Regions from separate parts of the Homo sapiens genome. Here region 2 is linked to region 1. Evidence: fine-mapped expression QTL. Tissue or cell type: whole blood. Region 1 holds a variant in brackets; the other region holds the start of a gene. All regions are shown on one strand. Distances are between the middles of the regions. Region 1 overlaps CASP4 (caspase 4). Region 2 holds the start of CASP4 (caspase 4).

The links. PIP is the estimated chance that this variant, and not a neighbour inherited with it, causes the effect.
Region 2: it holds the start of CASP4, and the variant in region 1 is fine-mapped to the expression of CASP4 in whole blood (TOPMed, PIP above 0.99).

Annotation. Positions count from the first base shown.
Region 1 is chr11:104,942,337-104,946,735 of GRCh38, forward strand. It overlaps CASP4 (caspase 4), which reads right to left. Exons shown (of 9, transcript NM_001225.4): 8 at 2,412-2,515; 9 at 530-637. The coding sequence ends at 2,417. Among named protein-coding and RNA genes, the nearest start is that of CASP4, 24 kb to the right of the region's middle. The variant G/GA (reference allele first, on the strand shown) is at 2,438.
Region 2 is chr11:104,966,305-104,970,703 of GRCh38, forward strand. It overlaps CASP4 (caspase 4), which reads right to left and starts at 2,270. Exons shown (of 9, transcript NM_001225.4): 1 at 2,215-2,270. The coding sequence starts at 2,221. LOC124902813 (a long non-coding RNA gene) reads left to right here. Exons shown (of 2, transcript XR_007062986.1): 1 at 1-1,856; 2 at 1,981-2,276. RefSeq lists an enhancer at 2,070-3,269.

The DNA.
Region 1 (4,399 bases):
ACCACATTTTGCTTATCCATTTATCAGTTATCAGATAGTTCCACATTTTAGATATTGTGAACAATGCTGCTATAAATGTGGGTGTATAAATATATCTTTGAGACCCTGCTTTCAATTACTTTAGTTATGTACCCATAGGTGGAGTTTCTGGAGCATATGGTAAGTCTACTTCTAATTTTATGAGGCAATACCATACTGTTTTCCAAGGTGGCTGTACCATTTGAAATTCTCACCAATAGAGCACAGGATTCCAATTATTCTACATCCCTTCAAACCCTTGTTATTTTCTGTTTTTTGGGGCTTTTTTTGATGGGAGTCATTCAAATGGGTATGAGGCAGTATCTCACTATAGTTTTCGGCAACATCTTTCATCCTATTGTTGGGGATAAATCAGTCAGTTTTCTTCATCAGCCAAGTATAGATATTTCATGAGCCATAAAGCTCGAAAATCCAGTTAGCTTCCTCCACTTCATTTCCACTCACCCACCATTTTCATTGAGATTATATTCTCTATTAGAAAAAGACACAGTTCGTTTGTCTTCACTTTTATTGAAATACAAAATGTTAAATATGCAAGCTGTACTAATGAAGGTGCTCCTTGAAGTTGATTAAGGAGGGCTGGGCTGCTTGTGGCTTCCTGCAGGGGAGAGAAAAAACAGAAGGTCAAGATGGTTACCCCTTGCTGCCTTCATCCCATCCCTCATCATGATTCTTCTTGCATCCTCTTCCATGTGCTCTTGCCACTTCCCTTGACTTCCATCTGTGACATCTTAGTCTATTCACCAAAATGTGATCTTTGTAAAACCTAATTTAAAGCATATTACTTCTTTTTTCTAAAGCACTAGAAAGGCTTCCTGTCTCGCTCAGATAATAATTTTTAAAGGTTTACCATGTGATAACATAGAACCACGCGATCTGGCTTCTCACTGCTTCTCCTAATTTGTCTCTGCCATTTTCTCCACTCACGTTCTCTTTTGGTCACACTGTCTCATTGCAGTTCTTTAAACATGTTTAGTGCATTGCTATCCCAGGGCATTTGCACTGGCTGTATTCTGTGCTGGAACACTTTTCCTGCATAAGAACCACATTATTCACTCCCCAACTCTGTCCATTCTTTGTTCTGATTTCATTATTTCAAGAAAAGCTTTTGAGTGAAATATCTATAGGAGTACAGCATCCATCATTCTGTGTTTTCCTTTGTCTTCCTTTATTTTTCCTTTTATCTTTTTTTGCTCTCCGGCCTGTGATATATTTACCACTTTATGTCTTCAGAGTCTGTTTCTACTCACTAGAATATAAGCTTTCAGAGTGTAAGAAATCTATTTACGTTGTTAATTGGCATATTCCAAGCATCTAGAACAAAACCTGGTGCACAGTTAGTGTTGGCAAATATTAGTCAACAAACAATTCAATGTCCAAATGCAGCCCCACTGGATGGATTAGGCACTGAAAGCTGTTATGCTGAAATGATGCAATATTGTGACTGAAGTGTCAGAAACCAAGAGTAAAAATTATGTGGTAAATGTTGGAAGTATTGAGAACAACTTTATACATTTCACTATAAAATATAATTTTAAGTATGTATCTTAGAGGGAGATTGATAATAGTCTTATAGTCTAGTGTTAAATAAAGCTATTATGAGTGAAGAAAGTCATCATTTAGTCCAGACTCAATGTACCCATTCTATAATATTTTGGTCAAAATAATAACAAAAGTTACATGGGAGCTTGAAGGAACTTCTGGACTGTGATTGAAGATTCAAAAGCCAACCCTGAGTGATTGGTGATCTGCATTGTGAGAACAGTCTGAGAACCAGAGCCTGGATCAACACAAACTCTACAGTGTAGGATGTATTCTGTACCATCTGGTAATGGTATCTGGATGTCAGTAATGTGGTATTTGCTGTGACATCCTCACTCAGAGGATCAAAATGCTGCTTTCTCCAGAGTTAGCTCCTTTGTTTACTCTGTTTTGTTTAGGGTTTGATGCAATGTTTGGCTACTTAGTGTCTCTCTCTCTCTCTCTCTCTCTCTGTGTGTGTGTGTGTGTGTGTGTGTGTAAGAAAGGGGAATAAAAGAGAAAGACTATGAGAGATAAATGAATATAAATAGTAATGGAAGCATGAGCATGTTTCTATTTTAATAATTACTATCCTTGGTTTTTCATCATCACATTCTGCTGCGGTTTTCCTTACCTCCTTGATTGATTGATTGATTGCCTGATTAATTGTAGAGTTGGAGGAATCCAAATACATGTAAGTCGGAAAGAAGTAGCAGATAATCACCAGACTATATCAACAAAAACACCAATTTGACCATCCAAGTACTCAGCTGTCATTTGTCATTGAACTTAACCACCAATATCACTCTCTTATTTATTTCACATACCACCAACAACTCTCAATACTTAACCATTTTCAATTGCCAGGAAAGAGGTA[G/GA]AAATATCTTGTCATGGACAGTCGTTCTATGGTGGGCATTTGAGCTTTGGCCCTTGGAGTTTCAAATGATTGCTGTACCTGAAAAAGAAAATAGGCTGTAGATGAGATACGACTCTTTTCAAGTCTCAGAAAGCATCTTTCACCATGTACCAGACAACACCTGGAATGAAGTGAGCTTGCAGGTTTCATAGAACCAAGCCCATGGGCATTCTAACTCCTCAACATTGTACCCTACCTCTTAGAATTGCCACTCCATGTCAGACTGTATGCTTTACATCAAAATAAACACCTCATGTCTAATCCAAGGTCTTTCAACATTCATTTCCTCTATTTTCCATTTCTGACCTACAGATCTGACAATAAGTTATCCCTTGAAAACTATTCATGAAAACCAGATAAGGAAGGACTCTGTACTTTCAACACTCACCAAGGCTGATTCCTCAATTGAAGGAGAATTTAATCCCAGTATCTTATCTTTCTTTTTTTTTTTTTTTTTTAAGATGGAGTCTTGCACTGTTGCCTAGGCTGGAGTGCAATGGTGCAACCTCGGCTCACTGCAACCTCCGCCTCCAGAGTTCAAGCAATTCTCCTGCCTCAGCCTCCCAAGTAGCTGAGGTTACAGGTGCCCACCACCACGCCTAGCTAATTGGTTTTTTGTATTTTTAGTAGAGACGTGGTTTCACTATGTTGTCCAGGCTGGTCTCAAACTCCTGACCTCATGATCCTCCTGCCTCTGCCTCCCAAAGTGCTGGGATTACAGGCGTGAGCCACCGTGCCCAGCCCCAGTATCTTATCTTTAAGACCCAAACACTGAACAACTTTCATATCTCCACCACCAAGCTGATCTTGTAGTTTTTTTGCATCAACTAATTGGTAAGTCTACTTATCCTAAATCCAGAATTTTTAGTTCCTTTTTCTATGAACATCCTTGAAAGTACAATGTCTAACTCCCACTTATCCAAGAAGATTTAAAAGATTTAACTTCCCAGATCTCTATTCACAGGAGCTCTGTCTCAATTTATGCTGCATTTCCTCCTCCTTCTCCTCCTCCTTCTTCTTATTTCACTACTTTTCTTTCTTTTTCTTTTTTTAAGACAGGGTCTTACTCTGTCATCCAGGCTAGAGGGTAGTGGTGAAATCTCAGCTCATTGCAACCTCCGCTTCCTGAGCTCAAGCGATTCTCCCATCTCAGCTCTCAGGTAGCTCGGATTACAGGTTCCAGTCAATATGCCCGGCTAATTTTTGTATTTTTTGTAGAGATGGGTTTTGCCATGTTGCCCAGGTTGGCCTCAAATTCCTGGGTTCAAGCCACTCCACCCTCCTTCGGACTCCCAGAGTGCTGGGATTACAGGAATGAGTGACTGTGCTGGTTCTGGATGGCTTTCTTCTATAAACGCCAGAGGTGTATCTTTCTTTTCCCGCAGGAGTTTTACTGTTCTCTACAATTTTTACTTTATTAATAATTATACTATTCTGTGTTAATACCAATCCCATTTTCTCTTTAAACAAGAGGGTGCATTTATCTGTGTATTTATGCATGTATTTATTCAATAATTATTAATTGAATATCTGCTACGTGCCAGGTTTGTTGAATTGCTGAGCAAATCCCTGCCATCACGAAGTTTGCATGTTAGTGAGTAAATACAAGTAAAAAACCAGACACATAAATAAACTATTAATATTTGCTGAGTGGGTAGATGTACGAGCTATGGAGAAAAATAACATAGGAAGTAGTGGGAATAAGGAATGTCCCAAGTTGGGCAAGAAGTAGCAAACCTTTCCTTCTGCACTTTTTTATTGAAAGAATGACTTCTTTTTTGTTCCCTCTCACATGTCTTTATGGATCCTATCACAATCTGTAAGCACATATTTGTTTGTTAACCCACATTTTCAGTATCCATATCTCCCACGAAAATGTGAGTCCTAGATAGGATTACGTCATGTAGGCCTCATTTACCCCTC
Region 2 (4,399 bases), 24 kb after region 1:
ATTCCCCTATCCATTCAGGTATATTTAATGAGCATAAATTCTTGAAACTTACTCTGCTGTTATTGGGGGTACCACTTTGGCAGCATGTCTGTACACTTTGAAGTTTGCAGTCAAGTGGAAAAATACATATGCAAATAAGTAAAATGAAAAATATTATAAGAATGTAAATAATTAGCAGAAGCTCAAGAAAAGCATAAGCAAAGTGTGTCTCAGGTACAGCTGTCCAGAGAAGGGAGGGCTTGGCACTGAGACCTGAAGGACTGGTAGGAATTTGTCCCCTGGAAAACTAGGAGCTGGTCTTTTGGCAGAGAGCAGTAAGGAAAAAAGCACAAAGGCTTGAGGGTGTCTCGTGTAACCAGAAAACTGGGAGAGCTGGGCTTTAGAAGGAATAGAAATGTGAGGCCAGGACTGAAGTGGCAGTGATCAGAGACAGGGCAAGTATTTGAAGATGTTTGCAGAAAGTTAGATTAATGGCAGAGTTTGAGAGTCATGCCAACCTGAGACCACTCCTCTCAACAGACTTTTGACCTAAAGCATATTTTGGAGGCATTCTCTAAGTATCCCCTTCAACTACAATATGGAAATAATAGCACAACTGTATTGATTGATGTTAAATATTAAATCAGAGAGAGTGCATGAATTAGCTATCATATGGTAAGTATTTTTTAAAGAAATGGTTACTATAGATTATTTTTTGTTATTATAATAATCACTGAATGAAAGCTGCAGTGATAATAAAAATGGCAGGAATCAATTAGAGGAAAAAACTTATCAGGACCACAGTTTTGGTTCCAGGCAAAGTGATGTAATGCTTAAACACATTACAGGATACAATTCCTCAAGAGTTTAAGGTAATAATAGCTGTCTACATTTGGTTGTTTATAATTATCAAACCACGACTTGTTTTTGACTAGTGGCTTTCAATTTACCCTATCTTTATCTAATGATCCCTTGATTCCAGAGCTTAAGTTAAATGTTGTGAAGTTAGACATAAACCCCGGAGAGAATTGTTCTATAGGGAGAATCAAAGGAGTAAAGAAACAACAACAAGGTAATATGAGTGAAGTAAATACAGTATTTTTTTATGAAGTTGAAATCATGCTTTACAAAGATTAATGGAAAAACTGGATACACATGTTTCAAAAGGTAGAAAAAATTGTCTGAAAGTTCAGATAGTAAAAAAGAGAAAAGGCAATAGGGAGCCACTGTATGTCCCTGAGCAAAGTTAATTACATTAATAGATCACTAGCAGATAAGCAGAGAGTGTTAACTAACTGGTCAACTTTCCTAATAGAACAAACCTATGTCAAGTCAGTTTCATAAGAATTATGTGACGATCTTCAAAGGTAATAAATGCCTGCAGGGTATTTAAGATTGAGCTATTCGCGGTGAGGAAGGGGGTAGTCATCTGACTTTTTTTATATGACTACAGATTGCTGCGATATGTTATAAGGTTTAGAATTCACTGATCTAGTCCAATTTCTTCCTTTTCCTGTGAGGAGAATGAAGCCAAAGAAGCGTTATGACCTGCTGGAATACTAGCTGCCTAAGTAACTCTATCCCTTAGGCTTTTTCAGCTTCTGTGTATAAGACAGGTGACCTAAAAGTTGTGTGCAGAATGGATTGGAGAGTTAAGTCCTGGAGGGAAGGATACCAGTTAAAAACAATAACAACGGCAAAACAAAACAACTGTGATATTAACCCATGAAATATTATATTAAAGTAGTCAGTATCAGGACCAACGAGAAAGAGGAAAAAATTGAATCACTTTAAACAGACCAAGAATGTAATTCACAATAAGAGATGTCGAAGAAGATAACAATTCAGAGGCTCTCAGATCTGATTCTGCGAAAAAGGTTTGTGATCTGGGCAATTAATTTGGAATCAAAAGAAAGATTTCAGAGTGCATTTCGAAACTTCTAGAATTGTCTCACACAAATAACTTCCTCTGGCTTTCTTTACCCTCCCTTTGATTACCAGAAGCTGAAAGAAAGGAATTAACTTCTTTCTGGCTCAAAGACATCTGGAAAACATATGACCTCCGTCAATATCTCTAACACCAGGTCCCATGATTCAAACTACACACAATCAGTAAGAAAAGGAATTCAACATGTGTGCTATCGGCTCACTTCCTTTCTTGTGTTTATTTCAGAGCAATAAATCAAGTGTTTTCTAAGTTCCTACTCCCAAACTCCTAGTCAGAAAAGGACTCACCTGCCATAGGGAACAGCCTCTGTCCTTTTTTACAGCGTTGGAAAGAGCCTCAGAGTCAAAAATGAAAGTAAACTATGTATTTCCTTATTGCAAAGGGCGGAAACGTGTAATTACAGATTGTGAAACTGCTGCTCAGAATTCCAGACTCATTATCAGGAAGTGCCTTGTCATCAGCAAATTGGCATCCAATTACTGGAATTTAGTTTCTGACTTGGGGGAAAAAAATGAAAATGACAAAATATTATCCTGTGGGTTGACACCTCAGCTTGTTTCTTTTCTTGTTTCCTGTGGCCACCCAAACTTCTTCTATCCATCTGTCTCTTCTCTTCCTGATCTCTCAGTTTTTCTTTCTCTGATTACAAAGAACGACAATGACTGAAGAAGTTTAATCTAACAACTCTTTTTCATTTCCTGATAAGAATTAACCCAATAGTTCATATTTCCAGCTTTTTGGGCAGGCACTGAGCTGCAGGAGTTTTTACATAGTCCAGCAGCTCCCGGAACTCTAGTGAGGCAGGAGTCCCGTCCACTCCCATGGAAAGGGGGCTGAAGCCAGGGAGCAAAATGGCCTTGCAGCAGGTCCATTCTCACAGAAGCCTGCAAGCTTAGATCCGCTGGATTAGAATCCCCACTAGCCAGCATAGCAGCCTGGAGTACGCCAGAGATGACCGAGTTCCCCAGGGGAGGGGCGACTGCCATTACTGCAGCTCTAGTCAGCGGTTTTTCCCTACCAGTGCTAGGGAGGCTGGGCAGATTGGACTGGGCAGCAGTCTTCACAGTGCAGCACAGCCGCTGTGGCAGATCATGGCCAGACTGCTTCTTTAGGTGGGACCGGGATCCATCCCTCCTCTCCCGGCAAGAAATGCTTGCAGGAATTTCAGCAACTCCACCTAGAGTTTACAGACAGAGCTCTCATTTCCCTGGTACAGAGCACCTGCGGAGAGGGGCAGCTGCGGTCTCAGGTTCAGCCAACTTAATCTTTCCTGCCTGCTGGCTCTGAAGAGTATCAGCGATCCAGACAAGGGGGATTCCCCCAGCCCAGTGCACCATCTCTGCTAAGGGATAGCCAGACTCTTTCCTTAAGTGAGTTCCTGATCCTGGGCCTCCTGACTGGGTTAGACCATTCAACAGGGGTTGCCAGACACCTCATACAGGAGAGTTCCAACAGGCGTCAGGTCAGTGATCCTCTGGGAAGAAGCTTCCGGAGGAAGGAGGAGGCAGCACTCTTTGCTGTTCTGCAGCCTCCATTGGTGATACATAGGTGAACAGTGTCTGGAGTAGATCCTCAGCACACTGCAGCAGACCTGCAGAGGAAGGGCCTGAATGTTGGAAGAAAAACAAAAAAAAATAAAACAACAATAACACAGCATCAACAAAAAAGACCCTACAAAAATCCCATCCAAAGGTCAACAGCTTTAAAGATTAAAGGTAGATAAATCCACAAAGATGACGAAAAACCAACGCAAAACCGCTGAAAATTCCAAAAGCTGGAATGCCTTTTCTCCTCAAATGATTTCAACACTTCTCCAGCAAGGGCACAAAACAGGGCTGAAGCTGAGATGGATGAACTGACAGAAGTAGGTATCAGAAAGTGTGTAATGACAAACTTTGCTGAGCTAAAGGATTATATTCTAACCCAAGGCAAAGAAGCTAAGAACCGTGATAAAAGATTACAGGAACTGTTAATTAGAATAACCAGTTTAGAGAGGAATACAAATGACATGATGGAGCTGAGAAACACAGCGTGAGAGCTTCATGATTCAAACACAAGTATCAATAGCCAAATCAACCAGGCAGAAGAAAGAGTATCAGAGCTTGAAGACTATCTTGCTAAAATAAGGCAGGTAGAAAAGATTACAGAAAAAAATAAAAAGCAATGAACAATACCTTCCAGAACTATGGGACTATGTAAAAAGACCAAACCTATGACTGATTGAAGTACCTGAAAGAGATGTGGAGAATGGAGCCAAGTCAAAAAACACACTTCAGGATATCATCCAGGAGAACATCCCCAACCTAGCAAGACAGGTCAACATTCAAATTCAGGAAATTCAGACAGTCCCAGTAAGATACTCCACAAGAAGATCAATCCCAAGACACATAATCGTCAGATTCTCCAAGGTTGAAATGAAAGGAAAAAATGTTAAGGGCAGCCAGAGAGAGAGGCCAGGTCACCTACAGAGGG